Linked DNA regions of Homo sapiens: region 1 is reported to be linked to region 2. Evidence: microRNA targets listed by miRTarBase, many of them from high-throughput screens and not tested one by one. Region 2 holds a microRNA gene; the other region holds the end of a gene's coding sequence.

The links. The annotated mature microRNA hsa-miR-4755-3p reads AGCCAGGCUCUGAAGGGAAAGU and lies in region 2 at 1,824-1,845, opposite strand. An mRNA with a match to its seed (bases 2 to 7 or 8) in the 3' UTR can be bound and repressed. Matches are read on the target gene's strand: a 7mer-m8 pairs with bases 2 to 8, a 7mer-A1 pairs with bases 2 to 7 and ends in A, and an 8mer does both.
Region 1: miRTarBase lists BTBD1 as a target of hsa-miR-4755-3p. The part of its 3' UTR that is shown has no 7-base or 8-base seed match.

What each region holds. Positions count from the first base shown.
Region 1 is chr15:83,011,700-83,018,818 of GRCh38, reverse strand. BTBD1 (BTB domain containing 1) reads left to right here. Exons shown (of 8, transcript NM_025238.4): 7 at 1-112; 8 at 594-2,396. The coding sequence ends at 752. LOC124903542 (a long non-coding RNA gene) reads right to left here and starts at 7,078. Exons shown (of 2, transcript XR_007064742.1): 1 at 5,760-7,078. RefSeq lists an enhancer at 6,943-7,002.
Region 2 is chr20:34,043,888-34,051,006 of GRCh38, reverse strand. It overlaps MIR4755 (microRNA 4755), which reads right to left and starts at 1,888; the gene lies at 1,817-1,888. All of the region lies in intron 2 of RALY (RALY heterogeneous nuclear ribonucleoprotein), which reads right to left. RefSeq lists an enhancer at 4,389-5,197.

The DNA.
Region 1 (7,119 bases), not on the chromosome of region 2:
GAATGATACCGGCTTTAGTTGTGATGGGACAGCTAACACATTCAGGGTCATGTTCAAGGAACCCATAGAGATCCTGCCCAATGTGTGCTACACAGCATGTGCAACACTCAAAGTAAGAGTCATGCACTATGTTCCAGATGGTTTCCTCTTGAATGTTGCAGAATGTGTGTTTTAGAAGCTGAGAGTCACTGACAGCTGAGCCATTTATAAAGAGGGGGGAAAAGAAGCTGGGAGCTAAAATATTCCACTGCCTTCCGAAAAGAAGTACTTCTCCCCACAGCTCTGTTCTGAAAGAAATAGCTCTTCTTAAGAAGTAGCCCTTTGTTTCAGTAAGCAGTTGAATGTTTGGCAGAAAATAAAAGTTATTTTTGTAAAATCTTTTCACTATTCTCTAATAGCTGGGCTGTACATTCAGTATTTTTATTCATTAATTAGTTTTTTGGTAAAAACTTCATTTTTCTCTAAATGACAGCATAAAATTTTATATAGGAATGATAGTGAAATATAATGGAACATTAATCTAATTAAAACACCACATTAAACTGAGTGCTTATTAAATGAAAATTACTAAGGAACCTTTTGTTCTCATTTAGGGTCCAGATTCCCACTATGGCACAAAAGGATTGAAGAAAGTAGTGCATGAGACACCTGCTGCAAGCAAGACTGTTTTTTTCTTTTTTAGTTCCCCTGGCAATAATAATGGCACTTCAATAGAAGATGGACAAATTCCAGAAATCATATTTTATACATAATTTAGCATTATAATACATCTTGGCTAAATAATACCATACAATCTAGTGTCAAAAACATAAATGGCCACAAAAAAGTAGTTTGAGTGTTATGAATATTTAAAATTGTAAGATAAGAAACAGTTTCTTAGAGCAGATAGAAAAATGCTTATTTAAATCTTTGCATGATTTAAAAACAGATTTTCCATTTTCTTACAACTTTAAGAGAAAAGAACTGGGTTTAATGGTTTAAAAAAAAGCACAGCTTTTTCACCTTCATCTTGTATAATTTCATAGATTGGCTGACTTAGGGTCTTTCAATAGTTTGGGAATTGAAAGATTCTTGTTATATATAGCTAGTTTGGGTTTGTTTTTGTTTTAACTATTTTGAAGGTTAGGTGAGATGGGCAAATAGGCTTAACTATTTTGAAGGTTGGATGAAAAGAGATGGGTCAGTATTCCTACAGAATTCTTATTAACTCAAATAACTAAATTTCAGAAAATTAAGAAGCTGACTTTATATTTGGTGGTTTGAAGTATCTTGTTGTTAGCATTTGTAATAATGCTAAAAAAGGCCTAATAAAATGCCCAAGAAAATATTCAGTGCATTTATAGAGAAGGATATTTTGTAGTAGTATAGTAATGTGTTATGTAGTACAGTTTTAAAGCTATAAATGGAATTTTGTGTAAATTCACAAAAATGTGATATAAACAGGATCTAAGACTGGATTCCCTGTCACTAAACTGCACCACTATACCTGTCTCTCTGTGTGGGGGACACTGCTGATGATTCCCAAGATTGAGATGATGACGGTGATGACGACTGGGTGAACAGCCATCACTTCAACATTGTGATAATCCTTCACAGCAAGAAACCGAATAAAATACTAACATTTCTAACAACTGCTCTGACATTGTAAAGAGATCCAACAGAATCACTCCTGCTGAAAAATACGCTTTCTGCCACCTACACATTTCTATTTAGGAAGTAAAATTTGCTTCATGGTCATGACCCCATTAGTCAGTGTTACAGCTGTGTTGGGGATAGGAAGTATATCTGGCAGATTGATATTTATACACTTTTTTATAAAGCAGATTTTAAAATATAGTAACATCCATTTTTTTCCCTTGAAAGTGATTCTCTTATAAAAAATGAAAGTGGAGTTTAAGGTATATCAAATCGTTGTGGAAGGTGATTAAAAATCAAAATTCTTTTAAATATCAACTTAATTTTTTCTAAGTAAGATACAAAAAATTTTCATCTAAAGTAATATTTCACTTTATATTGTAAAGAAGGTAGGTATATTGGTGGCTGAGGTCTCTTGAAATTGCTAAAGGGAAATTTTTCTATGGTAATGCTCTTACGGATATAAACCTCAGTTAAATGGAATTATCTATGGGATGTGTGGTTCTGGTTAACTAAAAATTAACCAGTAAACACTCTGTAGTAACCATTACAGAAAATACTTCTGCCTTAAAAAATATGATATGCCAGAGATGAGTTAGTGTTTCTTGACGTTGGAGACCTTTTAAATGCCTCATCTGTTGTACTGAACAATTGAAACTGCATGCAGCCATAAAAGGGACAAGAAACAGAACTGTTTACTAACTTTGGGACATCCCCTGGAGTTTTTAAAAATAAATAAATATATATATATATAAAAAAAACTCTTTTATGTCATTTGCCTTTTTCTTCTAAAAGTGAATATAAACAGAATTTTGATTTGTTTTTTGTTTGTTTTTTGAGATGAAGCCTCGCTCTGTTGCCAAGGCTGGAGGGCAGTGGTGCAATCTCGGCTCACTGCATCCTCCACCTCCTGGATTCAAGCTATTATGCGGCCTCAGCCTCCAGAGTAGCTGGGATTACAGGTGCCCACCACCACGCCCAGCTAATTTTTGTATTTTTAGTAGAGATGGGGTTTCACTATGTTGGCCAGGCTGGTCTCGAACTCCTGACCTCAGCTGCCTTGGCCTCCCAGAGTGCTGGGATTGATTACAGGCGTGAGCCACCACGCCTGGCTGTCAACACCATTTTGGAACAAAGGTTCTAGTTAATTGAGGTTTAACTTAATGGGAGTAATGCAATACAAAATACAAATACCTCATTGCTGATTTAAACCAGTTCATAGGAACTGCAGTGATAACTGCCGCAGCCTTTTGTTTCTTGATCATTTCTTGTGGCCTCAGGTTTTTCTCCTGTTCTAATCAGGAGGTGGAGGTTGAATGTGGGAGAATCCAATAAATAATCTTATTTACTGTTAAGAGTGTGACTATCATCTTACAGCTGTTTATTAATAACTACCCAAGTGACTACTAGGCTCTGCAATGAGTACTTTACTACATTCTTACTTGTTTCTCACAGCATCAGTATGAGGGAAGTACCCATTTCACAGGCAAAGAAATTAAAAGGTCAGCTAGGCTGGGCACGGTGGCTCACACCTGTAATCCCAGCACTTTGAGAGGCTGAGACAGAAGGATCACTTGAGGCCAGGAGTTCAAGACCAGCCTGGGCAACATAGACCCTGTCTCTGAAAAATAAGAAAATTAGCTGGGTTGTGGTGGCACGTGCCTATAGTTGTAGCTGCTTGGGAGGTTGAGGGGAGGATTGCTTGAGCCCAGGGGTCCAAGATTACAGTGAGTTATGATTGCACCACTGTACTCCAGCCTGGGCGATAAAGCAAGATCCTGTCGGGGCAGGAAAAAAAAAGTTTATTAAGTGGTGGGAGGTGGAATTTAAACCCATTTACAGAGTTGAGAAAATATTTTGCTGGGTCCAAAAATAACATGTCACTATTCTCAAACTTTGCATTGAGACCCAGAAAGATACTTGACTAATCTATATTTACTGTAAAATATACTATTTTAAGAAAGTGTGATATTCCAGTATCTACCCAACAAATCGAGATTACTTGCATTATCAGAGTATTGATAGTAGTAACTAGTTTTTTTTTTAAATTATTTTTAACCTGGGAATAAACTTGTAAGACATTAAAGAGAGCAAGGTCTTCAATGTGATATGCGCAATGTGTTTGAAACATTGTCCCACTTTTTAGTGCTTCTTCAAACCACTTTCTACTTCCTGTTCTAGTCATCCAGATTCGAGACCTGGAATTATCCCCCAATTAGAAAAAACACATCCTTCACAAGAAGGATGGTACCATCGCAATCCCAGCCCCAACAACCAGCCCCAGAGCTACACTGTGTATTTATTCACATACACCTAGTTTATATGCTTTTAAAAATCCCTTTTCCTGTTTCTCCATTGCGAGTTTTTAAGTGGGACTCTATTTAAAACAAGATAAAATGAGGCCTGTAGTTGCGCAGCTACTGAGGAAGCTGAGGCAGGAGCATTGCTTGAATCCAAGAGCTTGAGACCAGCCTGAGCAACATGGCGAGATCCTGTCTCAATAAAATGTGAACCACCACAAACATTTACAAGGGGTTTCCTGCCATTTGAATCAGTCCCTGTGTTTTCCCTCACCATTAGGCAATATGTCTTCCCACTCTGCCTCTCTCTCCCTTCAGGAGGCAGGGATGTGGGCAGGAGCAACAAGTCAGGTGCACAGTTTGGTGGCACATGGGGCGGATGGCTTTTCTCCTCCCCACTGGTGCAATGAAGTCCTCATATCCCCTACTCCTGAGTCACGTGTGGGAAAGGCTGAATGGTTCACAGCAGAGCACCTCTTAGCTCTCCTCACCCATCTAGCCAGATGCCATCGTAACTCACCTTCACAGACGTCCCCTTTATTTCCATGACAACTGCCAAACCTCTAATTGAGGCTGACGTGACTTCACCCAAAGCAGATTCTACAAATGACTGCTATATAATGCTGGTTCAGCTTTTGTGCCTCAATTCTTAACTGATTTCAAAGAAGGGAAATATGGTTTTGGTTTAACACCTGGCTCACTTTCTTCTGCTCAAGCCTTTATACTGCATGGCCTCAGTGGCCATGTGGACAACCCAGCTACACCTAGGTTTCCAGTTTCTTCTTTACCTCCAGCAACCTTCACCATTCCTTATCATGGCCACACCATATACCCTATCATGATGTGGAATTGCTCTACATCTGAAATAGGAAATTCAGACATCCCACTCTCTGGCCACAACCTTTGGTGTTTCTTCCAGCTCTCACTCACATTCCAGTTACACCCGTTATTGAACCTAAGACTGCAGCCCCTTGTCCTCTCTGTTCTTTTCTTCTTTACTTCCTTCTTTACCCAGTTAGACTCTACTTTTGGTCTCCCTCAACCCCTCTCCACCTTTGGTCTTTAATAACTTTAACCATTTCATCAATAACCCTCAACCCACTTAAATATACCTGAATCAATCCAGTTGTCTGCCTTATCTTCAACTTCCTGACTGCTTTGGTAGTAGCACTGGGGCCAAAAAAAAATTTAATTAAAAAAAAAACTTCTTAGCTGGTGAATCCAGGCATCTAAAGTAACGTAACTATAGGCCAGGCGCTAGCTCACGCCTGTAATCCTAGCACTTTGGGAGGCCGAAGTGGGTGGATTGCCTGAGCTCAGGAGTTCGAGACCAGCCTGGGCGAAATGGCGAAACGCCCGTCTCTACTAAAAATACAAAAAATGGGTGTGGTGGCGCGCGCCTGTAGTCCCAGCTACTCTGGAGGCTGAGGCAGGGAGAATTGCTTGAACCTAGGAGGCGGAGGTTGCAGTGAGCCGAGATCCCGCCACTGCACTCCAGCCTGGGCGACAGGCTCTTCCCATCCCCCTGTCTCAAAAATAAACAAAAATAAAATAAGGTAACTATAGATTGGGATCATAGATGATTTCACGGTCTCCCTTAACTGTCTACCGCTGGGTGAGTTGCAATAGTCAGCCCTTTGCCATTCTCAAGAGTCCCAATATACCTTCAACACCTCCCCCGCCTTAGTTAATGAAAGAAATTCCACCTCCCATCACCAAACCTACAAACACAGCTACATGTCCACCTAAGCTTTCCCTTAGGAAGGAAGGAGTGTCTAAGGCCTCCTGTAGAGAACTCAATCTCTACTTGAGCTCAGATCCTACCTCTTCAGGAACCGTCCTCTGCTGTAACCTCTCTTCTCCTGGCTCTTTCCTACCAATCTTCAAATATGATAAAAATAAGTCTCTGAATGTCATGTGCCCCTCCAGATACCAATTGCTCCTTCACAGTGAAGTCACTGGATTATTCTCTACAATTATCTCCATTTCCTTCTCTCCACTAAAACTGCTGTAGCCCGGGTCACCACCACCACCCTGATTTCTAAATCTTGTGGCCACTTCTCAGTCGTTACATGTGACATGTTCTCTCCAGAGTGTTCATCACTGTTGATGTTCCCTCTTGAAGCGCCCTTCTTTAGCTGCCGTTACACCGTACTCCTACCTGGTCAGTGTCCTTTGGTGACTTCTCTACCTGCCCTTGCTGTTCTAACCTGGGCCCTCGTGCTCTTTACACACTCTCTCATCCATTTCCATAGCTTCAATTGCCATCTGCTTTCAGAAGATTCCAGAATCTCTATCACCAGCCTTGATTTCGCAAACTCCAGTCACATATATTCAGTTACCCCTTTAACATTTGTATTTGGATGTCCTGTGGGCATCTCAAACTCATTATGTCCAAAGCTGAACTCCTCACCTCGGCCTCCCAAACCTGTTCCTTGGGCCCCAAACCTGGGCATTTCCTTGACTTTTCCCCCTTATTCGCACATGCAGTCATTCCCAAGTTCTGATCATTTCAGTTCCTGAAGATCCTTGAAATGATCAGCGCTCCACCCTCCCTGCGGTTACTCTAGTTCAGGCCACCCTCTCCCATTTAGGGGGCGGATCTCCCTGTCTCTGGCTTTTCCTCTGTCGGCCACAGTGCAGCCGGTGTCTTTCTAAAACCCAGCAAATTGGGCTGCTAATAATCCCTTGCTTGAAAGCCTTCAGTGACTCCATGATCTTGCCTCTGCTGATTTGTTTCATGTCTCTCCATATCACATGTCGCAGTGTATTTCCTCTTCTTTTACATTGTGGGATCCGCTGCGCCTGGCACAAGGTAGGTGCGCCATCGATACGTGGAAGATTCACAAGGGCCAAGCCGCCACGAGGCTCTATATCGACTTGATGGCCACAGGCAGCGCGTGGGACTCTGCATCTGCTGCTTGGCTGTGGGAGCGAGAAGACACCTGGCCCTGTGCACTCCTTGCCGCGCTCTCCAATTCTGAGAAGTGACAATACCTTTCTTTCCCCGATTAGGAAAGAGGTGACACACCTTCCTATCAGCTGAGCAGGGTGGGCCAAGACACGGTGAGGCCTCAGCTCCGCAGCTCCACTTCCTGGGGCTCGGCCCGTTCCAGAACAAAAGAGACTCGCGCATGTTCTGCGGCCACGAGACTCGCTCCCGCCGGCCTTAAGGTGTCGCCCT
Region 2 (7,119 bases):
TTTCATCAGGATTTTGAATAAACAGGAAATATGTCCATTTCTCTCAGTATTGATTACTCTCTAGGCTGTCTGACAGACTCACACTAAATTGCCAATCTGCTTCTTAGGAGTCAGGAGTGAAAACATCAGAGTGGGTGAGAGCCTGGTGGGAGGCCTGTGAGCTGGGAGTTATCTGAATAGAGATAGCATACTGGCTGTGGGGCTAGACTCCTCACCATCATCTTGGAACATGGCTGGGAAATAGGTCCAAAGGGTCATTTGGACAGCAGATCCCAGCAGCCTCTGTATGAGATCTGTCCAGGAGACTAACCCCATTATATGGGATGGCAAGAGGGGGAGGTGACTGGAAATGAGAAATGGGACCAGGCTGACCAGCTACACTCTCAGATAGAGACTACCCTGACAAGGGCCTAGGCACAGACACAGAAGTAGTTGGGTGCAGGGCTCTCAATTCATCCTTCAACCCTGCCTGATATCACATCCTCATAACCCACATTGCTGTGGCCATCTGCTCCCTCTAGTTTCTGGCAGATTAAGGCCAAAAACAACAGCAAAGCATTTTTGGATCAAGGTCCTGCCTGGGGACAGAGAAGTAAATAATACAAGTCCCTGTTCTTAAGTAAGGCACTAGACCAAGACGGTTTGAGCCTAACTAGAGGCTCTCTTGCATAGCAAAGTCTCTGGCACATGGGTTATATTCAAGAATTGTTTGAACCGAACTGAATCAAAGGAACCTACATTCTGCAAGTTAAGAGCACCTGTTTGGTGTCAGGAGCCCAAGACTTCTAGATTCAATCCTGGTTCTGACATGTACAATTCAGGGACTCTGGACCTCAGTTTGCCCATCTGTAAAGTGCACTTTGTCTACCCCACAAGTTGCTATGAGTAGCCAATGAAGTAGTGGCTCAGTAAATGGCACTCTGTAAATGGCATGAGATGGAACAGCAGGAGCTGATGGGAGCACGGGCGCACATGATCTTAAAAGTTTAGAGTCCAGCCTGAAGAAGACCTGAAATAAGCTCCTTTCTTTCTCCCCAGTCAGCTTAGATCTGCTTTTCAAACACAGCAGACATTCTCTGCATTTCTGGTGACTGTGAAAAGGGGAAGGGGATAATTTGCCACTAAGTAGGGGATAGAAAGAAAGGTTGCCATCTTTATACTTTTCAAAATAAGAGCACGGGATTTGGATTTATAATCCTAACTTTTGTTAATCAAAAGCTGTGAAACTATGAACAAGCCTCAACCTCTCTCAGTTTCCTCATCTGTACATTGTGGGGAAATTTCCTAAGTCATAAGATTGCAGTTAAGGTTCAATGAATTAATGATGTCAAAAGTGTTTTGAAATCCACAAAATGCCAAACAAACGCCAATCATTACAAAGTTGTCTGTCTTCTCATCAGTTTACCAGCTACATAGGACAGTGGTTATTTACCATTTGACAGGTGAGATCATCAAAGCCCAGAGAAAGTGCTTAAAGTAACACACAGCTCAATTCTGACTTCTTACAGCAGAGGTAACTGTTCCTTTACTACAGGGGTTCTTAATTAGCCTGCTTGCCTCATTAAACTGACAGATCTCTGAGGGAGGGGACTACATACATCTTACACATTTTTGTACCCCAGTGCCCATCATGGCACACCTAAAAGATGTGAAGTGTTACTAGAATGATGACTAACATATTGGTAGCAGAAACATATCTAGAACTCAGGACTCCTAATCCCAGATCCAGGGTTCTTTACAACCATACAGTGGCCCAAACCTCATAGACTCGGCTTGCCTTAACATCTCATCTCTTCCTCAATTCTCCACTCTAGCAAGATTCAACTTTCCCTTCAGAGCCTGGCTTTCATAGATGCCAAAGCCAGGCTCTGAAGGGAAAGCTGAATCTGGCTTTCATAGATGCCAGTTCCTCAGCCATAACCTTCCTCATCTCTCCTTGCTGAGCTAATTCCTATCCATCTCTCAGACTTGGAGGCCTTTCTAATCTCTCCTAATACTGGGTCAGGTATTTACTTTCCTCCATGGCTGTTTTGTTTATCACAGAGTCCTGGCACACAGAATGTGTTAAAAGTATCTGTTGAAGGCTGAATGAATGAAACACTGGGTGTAGAAATCCAAAGGTGATGCAGAGAAAATTTTTTTTTTTTTTTTTTGAGACGGAGTCTCGCTGTCTCCCAGGCTAGAGTGCAGTGGTGCGATCTCGGCTCACTGCAAGCTCTGCCTCCAGGGTTCACGCCATTCTCCTGCCTCAGCTTCCCGAGTAGCTGGGACTACAGGCGCCCGCCACCACGCCCGGCTAATTTTTTGTATTTTTAGTGGAGATGGAGTTTCACCGTGTTAGCCAGGATGGTCTTGATCTCCTGACCTCGTGATCCACCTGCCTCAGCCTCCCAAAGTGCTGGGATTACAGGCGTGAGCCACCACGCCCGGCCGCAGAGAAAATATTCTTGACCTGGAAGTCATGCAGCCTGACTGATTCTAATTCTAACTCCACTACTAATGCGTTTCGTGATCTTGAGCAAGTCCCAGTTCTTCTTTGGACCATCTATAAATGAGTTACACAGTATGATCTCAGAAGGTCCCTCCATTGTTAAAAGCATATGAGACTTAGACTCATGTGAAGTCCTAGGGATGAGGAGATTCCAAAGCCAGCTATATGCTCCATAGCATAGGAGACCCAACACTCTCATCCCCCCAGGAGCACGAGAGACACACGACTCTGCTGTCAGGAGCCTCCCAGCCCATTGGTTTACTTAATTCCTCTTGATGAAGTGCCAAGAATAAATCGTAGGTGAGCAGCAGAGCATTTTAACGAGTCCAGAGCCTAATGAATCTTTTCCTTCCTGTGTCAATTAGAATTTCAAAGCTAGGATCCCCAAGGACCAATTTATTGGGAACAGAGAGAAGAAGCCTTTTGTTCATCAGCAGCTGCCTGAGCTACCTGCTCTGCTCCTGTATCTCTGCTGTGTAACAATCCTGCTTACTCAGATATAACATCTGGCACAATAAAGCCTGGCCTGGAGGCTCCTTCTTGCCCAACATTTCTGGGGTCTGAACTTGAGGAAGGAAACAAGGGTCCAGGGTATTTCTGAGGGCAAAGGTGGGGTTGGGGGTTGGTCAGGGAATCAGAGCAGTGCTGACGTTGCTGCTATCTCCTAGGGATACTGGCCTTCAAAGAGCTAACAGCCACAGATCACCAGGCTACTCACCCAACTAAGTATCTGGTACTGTGTGGCACCTATTTACCTGTTATTTTAAATCCTCACAACCTCAAAAGCAGATATCAACCACATCATTTTAGAGAAAAGGAAAAAGAGGATCTGAGAGCTAAAGGATCAGCCTAAGGAACACAATTATTACAGTAAATGGCAGAGAAGGATTTGAACTCAGGTCTGTGCGACTCCGAAGACTAAAGCTCTATCAAACCAATACAACTCTGCCAGGAGCTGATGTCTTGAATGGCAGAGATGGCCCATGGTCAGCCATAGACACATTAGGCATTTGCCACCAACACACTGTCTTTTGCCCGGGCACATGCAAGAGTGGCTGCGCATCACCAGTCCTTCCATTCAATGGAGCTGGCAATCCTCCATCCCTAGAAGATAATCCAAGCAGAGTCACCATCAACACTGCCCCCTGCTCCTACCCCAGAAACCTTTTATTTGTGAGGAATTTCCAATTCTTGATCTAATGGCTCCCATGCACCCAGTTCTCCACCTCCCATACTGTCCGCTCTAAGTCACACAGGGCCAGCCCAGGTACTACTGCTCTGTATTCAACAAAGACACATTTTCCAAGGTCAGCAGATTAGCAAGTCAGGTTTCCAAATGTAACTAGTGTTGAATTTTAGGGCTCTAGTGTGAAAAACACATTAAGAATAGAGGTCAAGGCCAGGCATGGTGGCTCACACCTGTAATCCCCCCACTTTGGGAGGCCGAGGTGGGAGGATCACCTGAGGTCAGTAGTTCGAAACCAGCCTGACCAACATGGAGAAACCCCATCTCTACTAAAAATACAAAATTAGTCAGGCATGGTGGCACATGCCTATAATCCCAGCTACTCAGGAGGCTGAGGCAGGAGAATTGCTTCAACCCAAGAGGTGGAGGCTGCAGTGAGCCGAGGTCACACCATTGCACTCCAGCCTGGGCAACAAGAGCGAAACTCCATCTCAAAAAAAAAAAAAAAAAAAAAAAGAGTGGAGGTCCAGTGACTTGTCCAAGTTTACACAGCTAGAAAATCACAGAGCAACAACTGGAACACAGGTATATACTGAATCCTAACCTGGCCTCTATCTACACACAACAAGAATAACAAATATATAAAAAATGAGATCAGTGCTTTTTAAAAATTAACTTTTTATTTGGAGACAACTATGGAATCACTTGCAGTGGTAAGTCCTTTTAAAAGCACTGGACACTTAGCAAAGTGCCGGTCACACAGAAACCCTCCCAAGAAATGTTACCTATTAAGTATTACGAAAAAGGCAAAGGGCATTCAGAAGGCACCTTTGAGGAGGAGTGAATAAGAGTTTCTCTTTACCCAATGCTTAAAGTATGTACACATACAATACCTTAAATAATCCTTCCAATGACCCCATGAAGCAGGTGTTAATAGCCTCATTTACAAACAGGAAAACCACTCCCAGAAGTCAAGTTACTTGTCTAAGATTTCTTTGGTCCCAGCATGTGCCAAAGCTGGGATTCAAATCCAACTATATCCAACTCCAAACTTTATCCTCTTTCCACATTGCTTCTTTGGAGATAAGACTGGGGCTGGGCTTCAAAGACAAGCCTCCTGGATACAGACCTGTGGTTAAGAGCAGGCTGCCAGTTCAGGTGTGGAAATAATAGCATGAGCAAGGATGCAGAGTTAGCAACATGTCTTTGCAGAGGGTAGTAGTTCAAAGACACCGGCCTGAATCAAACAGTAAATTCACATGACAAAGACCAAACAAAAAGCTAAAGTGAGGGCAGGTGGCATGGGGTCCTGGAATGCTGCTAGCTGCTTGTGTCAATTACATGGGTCACAACTTGATTCCCTTCCGCTGGAAACTGTAAGAAAAGGGGAACGGCACACAGAAAATGAAGAGCCAGACACCAGACGGCAAGAGAACTGGGGAAAAGAAATCAAGTTTTACTCCTAACTAGGTAAGTAGCCTTGAGCAGGCCAATTTCCCTCTGTGGATTTCTAATACCAGGGATTTAACTAAAAGATGTCCAAGGACCACTCTAGCCATGACCTTCCAGAAATCACTCTATTACCAAATCATGTGAGCAAATGTAGGTCTGAGAAATGGGAGAGAGCTACATGAGGGAGAAGAAAATGAAGGTATTAAATGGGATTCAAGTTAATATTGGCCAAAAGACAGAAGATGGCAGAGAGCAAAGGAAGGGAGCCTGAACCAGAACGTTCCCAATCCTGGCCTGGCTCATAACTTGCTGTGTGATCCTGGCTACATGCCAACTTCATTTCCTCATCAGCCCAATGGACCTCGGGGCCCTATGTTCTGGCCTCAGCTGCCCACTCTCCAACCTTATCTCCTGCCTCTTTCCTCTTTACTGCTGCTACTCCAGCCACACTGGCTGCCTTCTAATTATTCTACAAACATGCTCTTGCATCAGGGCCTTTTCACCTGCCCTTCTCTCAGCTGGTAATGATCTTCCTCCTTAGAGAGGTCTACTCTGGCCACTTTTTAACATTTTACTCCTGCTTATCTTTCTTCATAATGCATATAGAATTACATAATTGATTTACTAATTTTTTCATTGTTTTCCCCATTAAAATAAGTTCTACGCTGGGCACAGTGGCTCATACCTGTAATCCCAACATTTTGGGAGGCCTCCGAGGCAGGAGGATCGCTTAAGCCCAAGATGTTGAGACCATCCTAGGCAACGTAGGGAGACCCTGGCTCTACAAAAAAAAATTTTTAATTAGCTAGGTGTGGTGGTGCATGCCTGTAGTCCCAGCTACTCAGGAGGCTGAGGTGGGAGGATTGCTTAAGCTCAGGTCAAGGCTGCAGTGAGCCACGATCATGCCACTGCACTCCAGCCTGGGTGACAGAGTGAAACCCTGTCTCAATAAATAAATAAATAACAAGTTCCATGAAGGCAGTCCTTGTTTTGTTCATTACTGTATCCCAGTTCTATGGGCAGTATCAGACATCTGTTGAATGGATAACTGAATGTATGTAAGTATAAACACTGTCCCTAAGGTCCCTTCCAATGCTGGCTTTCTGTGACTAACTTACGGGCTTGTGGAACTGGGGAACATCTCAGGAGCTCCAAGCCTAGGTAAGCTTAGGTCCAATCTGTCCTTCTGGCTTCAATTTTTGATATTTGCTTGGCCTCAATGGTTCTTCAAATGTTAACACACGTCAGGTGTGGTGGCTCACGCCTGTAATCCCAGCTTCGGGAGGCCGAGGCAGGCGGATCACCTGAGGTCGGCCGATCACCTAAAGTGAGGAGTTCAAGACCAGCCTGACCAACATGGAGAAACTCCGCCTCTACCAAAAATACGAAATTAGCCGGGTGTGGTGGTGCATGCCTGTAATCCCAGCTACTAGGGAGGCTGAGGCAGAAGAATCACTTGAACCTAGGAGGTTGCAGTGAGCCAAAATCACGCCATTGCCATTCCGGTCTGGGCAATAAGAGAAAAACCCCATCTCGGAAAAAAAAAAAAAGTAACGCACATACCAACACACAGCTACATACTCGTACAAATAGACAAATATATATCACCTAATTAATCAATTATTGTTGCATGCTATGTGTAAAACACAGTACATACACAATAGCCTCCAATATTATGTCCTTCAGAGTTTGACCCTAACTTACTTTGGTAACTTTAACCCTAACCACAGTCCTATTCCTGAACTCTTATACTCTGGCTACAATGGACTGTTTTCCCTTCTCTGAAACACCCACATAAGCTTCTGTGCCTCTGTCCTCACTGGTCTTTCTGCTTGGAAGTTACAGTCTCCCCTTCATAATTACCAAATGCCTCATCTTTGAAGTCCAACTCAAATATTACCTCTTCTGGGAGGTATTCCTTCATCTCTCAGGTAGTGGTCCCCTCCAAGCTCCTAAAGCACTCTCTCCAGGTTTCCATTCAGAGTGATTA